2 separate regions of the Homo sapiens genome follow, and region 2 is linked to region 1. A link means that fine-mapping ties the variant in region 1 to the expression of a gene that starts in the linked region. Tissue or cell type: tibial nerve. Region 1 holds a variant in brackets; the other region holds the start of a gene. All regions are shown on one strand. Distances are between the middles of the regions.

Region 1 (7,872 bases):
CCGGGAGGCGGAGCTTGCAGTGAGCCGAGATGGCGCCACTGCACTCCAGACTGGGGGAGAGTGCAAGAGACTCTGTCTCAAAAAAAAAAAAAAAAGAGAAAAAGAAGGCCAGGCACAGTGGCTCACGCCTGTAATTCCAGCACTTTGGGAGGCCAAGATGGGTGGATCTCTTGAGGTCAGTTCAAGACCAGCCTGGCCAACATGGTGAAACCCTGTTTCTACTTAAAATACAAAATTAGCTGGGCATGGTGGCGCATGCCTGTAATCCCAGCTACTTGGGAGGCTGAGGCAGAAGAATCGCTTGAACCCAGGTGGTAGAGGTTGTAGTGAGCCGAGATCGCACCACTGTACTCCAGCCTGGGCGACAAGAGTGAAACTCTGTCTCAAAAAAATAAATAAATAAATAAATAAGAAAAGGAAAAAAAAGAAAGGCTAATATTCATCACATGGTATTCCAACTCTCCTTCCTTGAGACAAATGTTTGCATATTGTGACTATCCAGAGGCATTCGATGCATATACAAGCAAATACACATGCATCTTATTGTTTAAATATTTAAAAATATTTAACAGGAATGTTGGCATATCATTTACACTATTTGCAGGTTGCTTTTTTTCACTTAATATATTTTAGAGATTGGCCCAAAACATAAGCTTTTTCATGTTTTAAAAATTCTGGGTGGGGCCAGGCACAGTGGCTCACGCCTATAATCCCAGCACTTTGGGAGGATTGAGCCCAGGAGTTCAAGACCAGCCTGGACAACATAGTGAGATCGTGTCTCTACAAAACAATTTTAAAAATTAGCTGGGTGTGGCAGCACACACCTGTGGTCCCAGCCTCTCTGGAGACTGAGGTGGGAGGACTGTTTCAGCCCAGGAGTTCAAGGCTACAGAGAGCCTTGATCTTGCCACAGCACTCCAGCCTGGAAAACAGAGTGAGATTCTTTTTAAAAATATATATAAATAAATAGAAATTCTGGGCTAGGTGCAGTGGCTCACACCTGTAATCCCAGCACTTTTAGAGGCCAAGGCAGGAGGATCACTTGAGGTCAGGAATTCAAGCCCAACCTGGGTAACACAGTGAGACCTTGTCTCTACAAAAATATTTAAAACTTAGCTGGGTGTGGTGGAGCACACCGGTGGTGCCAGCTACTTCGGAGACTGAGGTGGGAGGATTGTTTGAGCCCAGGAGTTCAAGGCTGCAGTGAGCCGAGATTGTGCCACAGCACTCCAGCCTGAGCAACAGACCTTTATCTTTTTGTTTGTTTGTTTGTTTTTGAGACGGAGTCTCGCTCTGTCACACAGGCTGGAGTGCAGTGGCGTGATCTTGGCTCACTGCTACCTCCGCCTCCTGGATTCAAGCGATTCTCCTGCCTCAGCCTGCCAAGTAGCTGGGACTACAGGCGCACACCACCACATCTGGCCAGTTTTTAGTATTTTTAGTATAGATAGGGTTTCACTGTGTTAGCCTGGATGGTCTTGATCTCCTGACCTTGTGATCCGCCTGCCTGGGCCTCCCAAAGTGCTGGGATTACAGGAGTGAGCCACCGTACCCAGCTGAGACCCTGTCCCTTTAAAAAAAAGACTTGTAGCTGGGTGCAGTGGCTCACACCTGTAATCCCAGCACTTTGGGAGGCCAACACAGGCAGATCACCTGAGGTCAGGAGTTCGAGACCAGCCTGGCCAACATGGTGACACCCCCGTCTCTACTAAAAATACAAAAATTAGCCAGGCGTGGTGGCGGGCCCCTGTAATCCCAGCTACTTGAGGGGCTGAGGCAGGAGAATCGCTTGAACCCAGGAGGTGGAGGTTGCAGTGAGCTGAGGTCGCAGTGAGCCAAGGTCATGCCATTGCACTCCAGCCAGGGCGACAGAGCAAGACTCCATCTCAAAAAAAAAAAAAAAAAAACAAATTGGTGATTGGCAGGGCAGGGGCTAGAGGGGACATGAGTGGGAGTGGCTGCTTCATGGATACTGGGTGTCCATTCAGGATGATGAAATGTTCTGGAATAAGATAGGGGTTGTGGTTGCAAAGCTTTGTGAAGACTAAAAATCACTGAATTGTGCACTCTAAAAGCGTGGACTTTATGTTACGTGAATTATACCTTTTTCTTTTTTTGGAGACAGTCTTCATCTGAGCCTAGGGACCAGCTAGGAGCTTCAGGGAGGAGAGAGGCCTCAGAGATTACAGCCTAAGGAGGCTGGGGAGACTGGACAGGGCCAGATCCCGGGCCTTGCTGGCCCTAGAGAAAGGTTTGGGCTTTTATTCCTCATGGGGGTCGGGGGGGGGGGGGGGTGCGTCGGCCAAGGGAGGATGACAGGTCTCATTTATCATTTGTAAAGATCAATTTGCTACTGTGTAGAGAACAGCCTGGAGGGACAGCAGGGGAGCGGGCGGGTGTGGGAGGCCGGTGGGAGCTGGGGCCGCTGGAGGTGTGATTCAGACATGCTAGGGATGGCTGGGCCTGGGGGAGGGCCAGGTGTTCAAGAGGAACAGAGGAGAGGGGTGCTGGGGAGCCTCTGGGGGATTAGCCATTGAGGGGTGTGTTTAAATGAGTGGCTTCATCAATGCAGCGCTGATGGCCATCGAAAGGGGCCCGCAGCCTGTGTGTGCTGATGGAGAGACAGCCCAGTGCATTAGGGAAAAGGAGCAAGGGGGAGGTTCCTGTTGCCATGATCCAATCTGTGTAAGACATTAAAAGATGAGGCTGGGGCCGGACGCGGTGGCTCACGCCTGTAATCCCAGCACTTTGGGGGACCGAGGCGGACGGATCACGAGGTCAGGAGATCGAGACCATCCTGGCTAACACGGTGAAACCCCGTCTCTACTAAAAATACAAAAAACATTTAGCCGGGCGTGGTGGCGGGCGCCTGTAGTCCCAGCTCCTGGGGAGGCTGGGGCAGGAGAATGGCGTGAACCTGGGAGGCGTAGCTCACCCGAGGTCGCGCCACTGCACTCCAGCCTGGGTAACAAAGCGTGACTCCGCCTCAAAAAAAAAAAAAGATGAGGCTGGGTGCAGTGGCTCACGCTTGTAATCCCAACACTTTGGGGGACGAAGTCAGGAGGATTGCTTGTGCCCAGGACTTCAGGACCAGCCTGGGCAACACAGTGAGACCCTGTCTCTACAAAATATCTTTTTAAATTAGCCAGGCGTGGTGCTGCACACCTTAGTCCCAGCTACACAAGGGGCTAAGGCGGGACAATTGAGAGTGCCCAGGAGTTAGAGGCTGCAGTGAGCCGTGATTGCGCCACTGCACTCCAACCCAGGCAACAGTGAGACCCCGTCTCTTAGACAAACAAAAAGAGGAGATCTGCATGCATATGTGTGAAGTTTCCAAAAAGGAGAAGCACAGGTGGCTAACTTAGGGGCTGGGATTCTGAGATTTTCTTCCCCTGCATACTCTTCTTTCATTTGCAGTTTTTCAAGACCACATGCATATTTCATAATGAAAGATTTTAAAGTAGATGATTTTATTCTAGTAACTGGCTACAAGAGAAACAGGGGAATTGATACCATTCCTGGGCAGCGCCAAACAGCCTGGGCTGGAAATGCAGCTGAGGACAGAATGATATTCACAAACACGGGCAGGAGGCTGGGAAAGCTCACAGCCCCACAGGACGGCGGGGCAGACCTGGAGCCACCAGGCATTACTGCACATGGATCTGGCATGTCTTCCAGGTGCTTGGGAAACACGAGCATTAGTTTGTGTACAAATTAGTCATAGGCATGTGAAGACATCTGTGATCATGAGTCCATCTGATCAAAATATTTATAAAAAGTCATTAATTTATTCCTACAATCAGGATTTGTGGGCACAGTCAAGCAGGTTTTGCACATTTAATCTTCTCATCAACCCTGAGTAGTAGGGTCTATCGACACGCATGTTACAGATGAGGGTACGAAGACACAGAGAGGTTGAGGAACTTGCCCAAGGTTGCACAGCCACCGAGCAGCAGAGCCCTGACCCAGTAGATGCCAGCATGTCCTGTGAACAGAGGATGCCTCAGTCCCGAGTCTCTGCTGCTGTGGGGAGTCTGGAGTCCCCAGCGCTCTGCACAACTTTGGGCTTGGCAGCCTTCCAGGGTGCGCCCTACGCTCACTCACCATGCAGCTACTGGACTAAGAGCTGGAGAGACAGCAGTGAACACTGAGACACCTGCCTTATGCAGGGCTGTGAAAGGCACTCAAAATGGCCTTTTACATATGGGAAACTGAGGCACGGTGCTACTAAACGAGCTGCCCAAGTCCCCACAGCTGGGCATAACTGGCAGAGCTGGGACTGGAACCCAGGCAGTTTGATTCCTGGCTTCCGTGAACCATTAGCCCTGAGCTGGGAATGCTGCCGGGCATCACTCTTGGGGATAGGATGACCTGGGGGAGGTTCTTTCAGCACTCTGGATGTGTCCCCACTGCCTGGGCCTGGTTTCTGATGAGGGCAGCTACTAACTTTATCAGGGACCTTCTGTATGTGACAAGACGCTTTTCTTTTGTTCTCCCAATTTTGTCTTTGGCTTTCAGCATTTTTACTATGGTGAGCCTGCCTGTTTTCTTAATATCATGTTTTTGGTTTAACTGGTTTTCCAATTTCCAGGCCAACAGACATGATTTGTGTGAATAAAGCTGGAATAGATGGCCCCATCCAACATCTCTCTCTCCAAGATGAGGTCTAGAGGAGGGAAATGGTGTCTCCACGTTTGCTCAGCACACTGAGGA[C/T]TCCAAACTCTGTGGGGCTGAGACCATCTCCCTCCCTCCAGCCCTCTCCTGGTTCCTCCACCCCAACCCACCGATAGCATTCAGATACCAGACGTGGCCTCCCCAGCCCAGCCACACAGACAGGCTGGCCACCCGCAGGAACAGAGGCCCACTAAGCTGGGCTGTGTTACGGATGAGACCAGGGGAGGCCACACAGCAGGGAGGATTCAGATAGGGATGGAGAAAGCCAGCAGGACTCCACAGGGGGTGGGGCCTAGAGGCACAAGCCTCCAGGGCAGGCAAGGAGGTGGTTAAGGACAAGGCCTTCTGAGCAGCAGCAGCCACATCAGAAAGCCTCGAGCGCCTGTAATGCCAGCACTTTGGGAGGCTGAGGCAGGTGGGTAATTTGAAGTCAGGAGTTCCAAACCAGCCTGGGCAAAATGGTGAAACCCCATCTCTGCTAAAAATACAATACTGAGCTGGGTGTGGTGACACCCACCTGTAATCCCAGCTACTCGGGAGGCTGAGGCAGGAGAATCGCTTGAACCCAGGAGGTGGAGGCTGCAGTGAGCCAAGATCGCGCCATTGCACTCGCCAGCCTGGGCAACAGAGCGAGACTCCATCTCCAGAAAGTCTCCAGTGAGCAAACTCTCAGGACCGGTGGGCTTTATACATTCAATATGCACCATTCATCAAGCATCTCATTATATGCTGGTGTGCTAGACAAACCCCTTGCCCACCAGCACAAGACAAACATGAGACAGATAAACCTGCCAGCTTGTGGGCTGCAAATCAGTGCTGTGGAGGACAACTGAAGCAGGTGCCAGGGGAGAGGCCTCACGAGAAGGGGCCATCTACTAACGTGAGCAGTGAGCTCTCCTTATGAAGGCGGAGTCCCAGCGCAGTGAGGCCAGCCAGAGATGGGCCTGAGTGGGACTGGGACAGTGGGGGCTCCTGAGCAGGTACGAAGTCACCAGCGGAGTGAGGCCAGCTGGAGGTGGGCCTGAGTGGGATTGGGACAGTGCGGGGGGTCCTGAGCAGGTACCAAGTCACCCAACTCAGTTTTAAGGCAACACCTCTCAATCTGAGCTAATAGACCCAACTAAGGGAAGGACAAAGGAAATGGTAATTCACAGCAGACAGGGGCTGGCAAGTGGTCAGATCTGCTCTCCTTCGAGCTGGGCAAGACTGGAGCAGACAGGACTGAGGTCGGAAGGGCAGTGGTCTGCCTCAAAACGCAGGGCTCCCAGCCCCGTACGACCCCAACCAATGGCAAGTCGAGGCCCTGACAGTCCCCTTACTCTCAGTCAGAGCCGGGGGTGGTCTCAGACAGGGAGCAGAGTCCTTCTTTGAATCGGGTACCCCAGGATGGCAGGAACCAGGGGTGCCATGGATGCTGGATCCTTGGTCCCTGGCAGTGGCTGACAGAGTTAGGTGCCCAGGAAACATGTGAGGATCAACAGCAGGACTCTTTCCCCATCCAGGCCTCACTGTGTGTCATGGTGTCTTCCAGGCTGGAGTGTAGTGGTGGGGCTCATGGGCTCACTGCAGCCTCATACTCTTGGCTCAAGTGCTCCGCTCACCTCAGCCTCTACTCAACCTCTGAGGAGCTGGGACCACAGGCGGTGCACCACCACACCCAGCTAATTTTATTTTAGAGACGGTGTCTCATTATGTTGCCTAGGATGGTCTCAAACTCCTGGCCTCACAAGCTGTAATAAACACTAGGGAGCAAACAGGCCAAAGGAAACAAGAGGGCTGGGCAATCAGGAAAGCTTGGGTGACAGGGTGGCCCAGGAGCGGCCACTGAGATGAGACCTAAGTGACAAGAGCCAGCTCAAAGAGACAGGGGAGGGATGGGGACACCTGGAGGACGGGAGTAGGGGGACAATGCTAAGGCTGCTCAATGCCTGCTGGCTGTACCCTGGGGCTGCCATCTCCCTTACAGTTATAAGCCACCACCCACCAAGTTGCCCATCTCAGAGATGAGGTTGCATCAAGTAAAGCCCATCCCCTCCAAATGTGGCTGCACCCACTCCCTGGATGCAAAAGTCATCTCATCTTCCTCCCGTGATGTCTGTCGTCCCCCAGGTCTTGGGAACACCCCAAGTCCCCAAACCGTGCTACAGCACCAGGGCCCAGGGCCCAGCCCTCAGCCTGCACCCTTCTGGGCTAGAAAAGGCCTTTCTTCTTCTGAATGGAAGCCACTGCCCCAGCTGGGATTCTTCAGGCCACCTCACAATGGGACAGTAGGTCTCAATCACAAGTCAGCAAACTTTTTCTGTGAAGACAGTGACCCTTGCCCTCACCAGGGACAAGGCAGCTACCCCACCCCTCCTGCATGGCCAGCCATTGACATCACCTCCAGATGGACAAGGTGACATGCAGAGTTTTGATGACATGGCCTGAATGACAACACACAGGGCCAGAGCTCCCCAGAGCGTTTCAAAAAGGGAGGCCCAGTCGAGGCAGGTGAGAAAGCCAGCTGACTTTATTGCTCTGGGGGCAGGGGGCTCAGGAGCTCTTGGTGGGGCGGGTCCGCTTCCTCTTCACCATCACAGGCTTCTGGCTGCGCAGGATGGCGCTGGCCCTGCGGATGGCTGCCTGGGGGCGGGGGAGCAGAGCAAGGCTCAGCCCATACACTCCACAAGCCGCCCCCTAGGCCAATGCTGGGTGTGGGGAGTAGGCTGAAAGCAAGAATCCATCCCTCTCCAGCCCATATTGCAACCAGTAGTGGGAGGCCCTTCCCCACAGCACTGGCCAGTCTCCCCAAGCCTGATCCCCAAACCCCAGCTCACCATGCGCAGGTCGGGGCGGTACTTGTTCTTGCGGATCATGTGTCTGATGCTGCTGAGCGTGGCGCGAGCATTCTTGTTGATGGTGGTCCGCACATAGGAGGTGGCAGGCTTCCGCTGGCCTGGTTGGGGGTCAGGGAGGTCCTGGGGTCAGTCCACCTAACCTGCACCTTTAGCACACCTCGCAGGTGTGGACAGTCTCACATTGAGAAGCTGAGCAGCGTGGGCCCGTGGCGGGTGCCTGGGCAGGCCAGCAGGTAGCTGTTTTCCCACCTGTCCATTTCACAGAGGCTCACTCGTCATCACGGAGTACTGAGGACACAGCTTCTGCCACACTCATAGCCCAATTCTGTCCACCATGAAAACACTCCTTTCTCATGCCAGA
Region 2 (6,436 bases), 53 kb after region 1:
GTGCGGAAACCGAGGTAGGGGTCCAGGACGAGGCTGGTGGCCAGGTCGTCGTTCTCGCACAGTTCTCGTGCTGTCACTCTGTCGGGCCCCATGGTGCCCTGCGGACCATGCTGCCTCTGGCAGAGAGCAGGAGCAGGTGAGGGCAAGGCAGGCGCGGGGAGCCTGGCTTGGTGCTGACTCCACTCCCACGCTACTCAGAAGCCATGGGGGACGCTGGTGAGCCCCACGATCTCATCTGCAAAATGGGGAGAAAAGCAGTGCTGACTTCACCAGGCCGCTGGCGAAGATGGAATGCAACAAGTACTTCTGAGAGTAGGGAAAGCCCAGAGCCATGTCAGCCATCGCCTTAGCTCTTGCTCTTGCTCCGCAGCGCAGACACAGATCCCCCCTAAACACACAACCCCCACATGCACACCCATGCACACTCAGACTGACACACGCAGATGCCCCTGCCCATATGTACAGAGACCCCCTACACACACACATCTCTTTGGGCCCAGAGAAGGCTGACTGATTGGCAGCCGGGATCACCCTAAAGGCTTAGCACCGTGGGGAGCCGCTTCACCTCTAGCCCTCAAGGAGGAAAAGTCAAAGCTTCCCGCCAGCCCGAGGTCCCGCCCTCCACCCCCACCTCGACCCAGCCTCGGTCTCCGCCCCCTGCCTCCCCGGCAGCCTTCGGGAGTGGTCAGGAGGCTCCGGGTGAAGCCCCAGGCAGCCTGGAGGCGGGTGACGGGAGGGAGGGCAGGGGAGGGATCCCAGCACCTGCTCCCTCTCCAAGGATTCCAGGGGAGGGGGGCTCAGAGGACAAAAGCGGGGGTGGGGAGGGGAGCAAAGGAAGACTATGGGGAGGCAGCACAGGTCAATATTTACAAAAACATTTTTTTAAAGCGGAGCCAGGAGAGAACGGAGAGATGAAGAAAACCACCCAAACCCCTAACCCGGACGGAGGGCCAGCCTCGTCCCCGCACCACGGCGCTCGAGGCTCATCCGCGCCCAGGAGAGGAGGAGATGGGGCAGGGCAAGGAGCGGGAGCTGCAGAGACGGCTGTGGAGGGGTCGGGGACAGACTGCGAGGCTGCGGGAGAGAAAGAGGGGGCGCTGCAGGAGGACGCCAGGGACAGCGGGGAAGCTGGAGAGGGGGCTGGGGGCAAGGAGAGAAACGCACAGCGGTGGGCACGGCAGGGGGCTGTGGGAGGGAGAAGGCTGCAGCCGGGCCTGGGGGCGCTCAGAGGGGTGTGAGGAAGGGATGGGGGTGCCAGGGAGGACAGAGAGCGGGGAATGGCCTAGGGACTCAGGGAGGAGCCAGACGGGAGACCTGGGTCGGGGGGCGGTCCAGGGATGGCGGAGAAGATCCTGGGTGTCCAGTGAGTGAAGGGCCTGAGAGGGCGGACAGGGGCCCAGGGATCCAAACGGGCTTGGTGGGGTCCTGGGGGATCCAGGAAAGGGAGACCCTAGGGAAGGGCCTGGGGACCCAGGGAGGCGCCTGGGTAGGCGGTGAGAGCCCAGGGCAAGGGACCTGGAGGGTCAGAGGCCGACCTCAGGGTCCAGGGAGTGCCAGGAGAGGGACAGAGGGGTCAGGGAGAGGTTCTAGGGCACAGAAAGACCTAGAGGGTCCAGAAGGAGGCCTGGAGGGTGAGAGGAGGTCGGGGATTGGCCCTGGGAGTGCAGGGAGGTCCCGGGGGTGAGAGAAGGGTCAGGGAGAGGCCCTGAGGGTGCAGGGAGAGACCTGGGGGTGCAGGGAGAGGCCTGGAGGGTGAGGTCAGGGAAAGGCCCTGGGGGGTGCAGGGAGAGGCCTGGAGAGTGACAAGAGGTCAGGGAGAGGCCCTGAGGATGCAGGGAGGGCCGTGGACGTAAGAAGGGGGTCAGGGCCCGGGTGAGGAAGCACAGGAAGGAGGCTGCAGTGCCGCGGAGCCCGAGGCCCGGCGAGGGGCCGGGAGACGTGGGCGCCTGGACACGAGGAGGGGCCGGGCGGGGTGGGGGGCAGTCGGGGCAGGGGGCGACTGGGGAGCCAAGGCGGCGCGGGGCTGGGGCCGTGAAGGGGCTCAGAGATCGGGCCCCGCGCCGCCCCTCACCCGCTTCTCCTCCTCCTCCTCAGGCGCCCGCGCCGCCGCCGCCAACACCTCCCACAGCCTCCTTCGGCTCTCGTCAAACACTGTCGCCGCACCTCCCATCTGCTCTCCGGGCCAGCCCCGCCAAGGCCACTGAGGCTTTCTATTGGCCACAGCCACCGCCACTCCTCCGTTGCTACGAAGCTCACGGCGCTCCCATTGGCCAAGCCCCACTCTTTCCCTCCGCGCCCGGCTCTCGTCAATACACAGATAAAACCCCGCCACGCCCCCGCCGCCGTCAAACGCCGCGAACTGTTGTCAGTGGTTCACATCGCTGTCCTTTAGTCGCTGCCATGGAGACTTGTCCCGCCTTCGCTCACACTGGGGCTCGAAATCGACGCACTCATTGGCCGAAAGCGCAGTCTCTCCGGGCGAAACTCGGTTTGGGTCGGGTTATTCAGGTCCAAGTGGAAAGAGGGCGGGCTCTGCCAGCTCCAGTAGTCGTATATGATTGCCTGGCCTTGGGACAGCTCCTCTTTCCATTGGGTAAGGCCTCCGTCCATCACCATAGAGTCGCGGCCTCCCTCTTCTATTTCTCCGAGGAAAGCTTCGGCCACAGGAGGGAGAAAGCCAGACCCGGCGGGAGGGAGGCGGTGAATGCGCGCGCACCGCCATCCCTCTCCCCTCCCGCCCCGCGAGGCCTGCGGTTACCAAGGCGACGAAACTTTATTGACAGCTCTGCCTGGCTACAAAGGGCTCCTCAGTCTCTCTCCCTCCCTCCCCGTTTACACCGTTGCGTTTTGGGAGTATCCACACGCACTCTGTGGGACCTTCCCGCGATATGAACGGGGTCGGATGGAGGGAGGGGAGGCTGAGGGAGGAGTGGGGACTTTTGAGACAAGCCCTGACTCCTGGGGCGCTCCCCTGGGGCACCCCCTAATTGGGATCACCCCCCCTACCTCAATCCTAGAGGCAAACGTAACTAACAATTCATCATAATTACGCCGAGAATAATAAGCTCCACACTCAGAACAGGCGGTCTTTGTTTGCTTGTTTGTTTGTTTCGCCACAGCCATTCTTCCCTTAACGACACTGATACCATCTGGGCAGTGCGTGCTCAGGCGATGTCGTCATCCTGCCAGCATCCTAGAGCAACATCACTCACACCTACGTGGCAGGGCTGCTGGCACCTGGGCTGTAAGGTGGCCGGCGGCTCCTGGGCCACACAGCTGTGCAGCATGTTACTGTCCGGTAACACAATGTAGGCGCTTGTGTGTCTACACATATAGGATCACTGTCAGACATGCGCTCCACTGTACAGCTATAGATCGTGGGCACTTAAAACAATGCATGCCACAGAGTAGGTGCTGTTTTGGTGTGCTGTTTTTGGTGTTTTGGTGTGTGTGTGTGTGTGTGTGTGTGTGTGTGTGAGAGAGAGAGAGAGAGAGAGAGAGAGAGAGAGAGAGAGAGAGAGAGAGAGACAGAGACAGAGTATCGCTCTCTCGCCCAGGCTAGAGTGCAGTGGAGTGATCTCGGCTCACTGCAGCCTCTGCTTCCCAGGTTCAAACGATTCTCCTGCCTCAGCCTCCCAAGTAGCTGGGATTACAGGCATGCACTACCACCCCTGGCTAATTTTTTTTTAGACAGAGTTCCCTCTTGTTGCCCAGGCTGGAGTGGAATGGTGCGATGTCGGCTCACTGCAACCTCCGCCGCCCAGGTTCAAGCGATTTTCCTGCTTCAGCCTCCCAAATAGTTGGGATTACAGGCATGCACTACCATGCCCGGCTAATTTTTTTTTTTTTTTTTTTTTTTAGTAGATACGGGGTTTCACCATGTTGGTCAGGCTGGTCTCGAACTCCTGACCTCAGGTGATCCACCCACCTCAGCCTCCCAAAGTGCTGGGATTACAGGCATGAGCCACCATGCCTGGCCTGTATTGTGTTTTGAGACAGGGTCTTCCTCTGTTGCCCAGGCTGGAGTGCAGTGGTGCAAGGATGGCTCACTGCAGCCTCGACCTCCTGGGTTCAAGCGATCCTACAGCCTCAGCCTCCTGAGTAGCTGGGACCACAGACGCATGCCACCATGCTCGGCTAATCCTTTAATTTTTGTAGAGACAGGGTCTCTCTAGGGGCTCATTCAAGTGATGCTCCCTTCTTTTTTTTTTTTTTTGAGAGAGGGTCTTGCTCTGTCGCCCAGGCTGGAGTACAGTGGTGCGATCTCGGCTCTCTGCCTCCCGAATTCAAGTGATTCTCCTGCCTCAGCCTCCTGAGTAGCTGGGATTACAGGTGCCCACCACCATGCCCAGCTAGTTTCTGTATTTTTAGTAGAGGTGGGGTTTCGCCATGCTGGCCAAGCTGGTCTTGAACTCCTGACCTCAGGTGATCCACCCACCTCAGCCTCCCAAAGTGCTGGGATTACAGGTGTGAGCCACCATGGCTGGCCTAGGCACTTTGTTAATATGTACTGAATGAATGTGTGAATGACCAACCAATAAGGATGAAGCTGACAGTCTCTGCATTGCTCTGTGACTTTGAGGAAGTGACTTGCCATCTCTGGGCTTTGGGTTCCCATCTATAAAACATAGACCATACACTTGTTTGGCTTCCAGCTTTCCACCCTTTGTTCATGCTATTTCTTCTCCAACAGGGACTATCCCCTAGCCCCATGCTTTACCTCCCTAATCTCTCATGAGCTCTGAAATACCCCCTAACTCAGGCAGGCACCACTACAGCTAAAGTCGACCAAACCTTTCTCGGGACCATCACTTTGACCAGGACCATGCCGGCAGAAGGGAACTGGGGCTGGGGACTTGCCATGGAGCAGCTAGAGGAGACAGAGGTGGACAGAGGTGGCCATACCAGAGCAAGGTGATGCCAACTGTAACTCCTGGTCATCAGTGGGGAGGGACAGGTGACCAGCTCCAGAAGAGAAAAGCAGCCTTACCCAGGGAGGGGGAAATGGCAAGCATAAAGGACTTCATGGAAACTCAGCTAACTGGAAAAGTTGTATCAGTCTGTATGAAGTACAGTCCTTCTACTAGTGGGTGGGTGTACACTCTAGAGAAACTCTCCGACTTGGAATAAAGAGATAAATGCAAGAATGCTCGCTATCGTGTTTGTAACGGTGAGGAACTGGAAACGGTTTCCATCACCAGAAGAATGGAAACATGGATCCTGGTATATTGATACAGGGGAACACCATATGTCAGTGAAAGTAGATGCACCAGTGTCCCATATATCACCCGGGACAACCCGTAGTTGCAGAAGTCTACAATGCCATTGACACGAAGTTTTGAAACACATACAATGGCTGGGCACAGCCGCTCACGCCTGTAATCCCAGCACTTTGGGAGGCCGAGGCCGGTGGATCACCTGAGGTCGGAAGTTCGAGACCAGCCTGGCCAACATGATGAAACCCCGTCTCTACTAAAAATACAAAAATTTACCCGCACATGGTGGCAGGCACCTGTAATCCCAGCTACTTAGGAGGCTGAGGCAGGAGAATTGCTTGAACCCAGGAGGCAGAGGTTGCAGTGAGCCGAGATTGCACCACTACACTCCAGCCTGGATGACAAGAGCGAAATTCCATCTCAAAAAACAAAGCAAAACAAAACAATGGTTGCATGTGGATACATGTGGCAAAAGGATACACACGTGAAGGGCATGACTAACACAGCATGGGGAGGGAAGCGGCCGCCCCTGAGGGTGGGGAGGGAAGAATGCAATCGGGAAAGCTACACGGGACATTGGTATTTGGAAATTTTGTTTAAGCCCTGTGGTGGAATCCATGAGTTCATTATATTTTTCTTTTTATCTCTATTTTTTTTAACTACACCTGTAACAAAACTGCATTTCTTTCTTTCTTTTCTTTCTTTCTTTCCCTTTCTTTCCTTCCTTCCTTCTTTCTTTTTCTTTTCTTTCTTTTTTTTATCTTGAGACAAAATCTCGCTCTGTTGCCCAGGCTGGAGTGCAGTGGTGCGATCTCAGCTCACTGCAAGCTCTGCCTCCCGGGTTCACGGCATTCTCCTGCCTCAGCCTCCCGAGTAGCTGGGACTACAGGTGCCCACCACCACGCCCAGCTAATTTTTTGTATTTTTAGTAGAAATGGGGTTTCACTCTGTTAGCCAGGATGGTCTCGATCTCCTGACCTTGTGATCCACCCACCTTGGCCTCCCAAAGTGCTGGGATTACAGGCGTGAGCCATCGTGCCCGGCCTCTTTTCTTTCTTTTTTAGTTATTTGATTTTCAATCCCACTGACATGAGTTCATCAGTTCATTATATTTACTGTCTGTTCCTTTTTTTTCTTTTTTTTTTCTTTTTGAGATGGAGCCTCGCTCTGTCGCCCGGGCTGGAGTGCAGTGGCACAATCTCCGCTCACTGCAAGCTCTG

The links. PIP is the estimated chance that this variant, and not a neighbour inherited with it, causes the effect.
Region 2: it holds the start of KMT5C, and the variant in region 1 is fine-mapped to the expression of KMT5C in tibial nerve (GTEx, PIP 0.95).

What each region holds. Positions count from the first base shown.
Region 1 is chr19:55,387,667-55,395,538 of GRCh38, reverse strand. It overlaps RPL28 (ribosomal protein L28), which reads right to left. Exons shown (of 5, transcript NM_000991.5): 4 at 7,491-7,609; 5 at 3,454-7,296. The coding sequence ends at 7,207. MIR6805 (microRNA 6805) reads right to left here and starts at 7,358; the gene lies at 7,297-7,358. The variant C/T (reference allele first, on the strand shown) is at 4,714.
Region 2 is chr19:55,335,593-55,342,028 of GRCh38, reverse strand. It overlaps KMT5C (lysine methyltransferase 5C), which reads right to left and starts at 2,153. Exons shown (of 9, transcript NM_032701.4): 1 at 2,072-2,153; 2 at 1-235. The coding sequence starts at 92. RefSeq lists silencers at 577-756, 2,002-2,061 and enhancers at 2,082-2,151, 2,461-3,234, 3,235-4,009.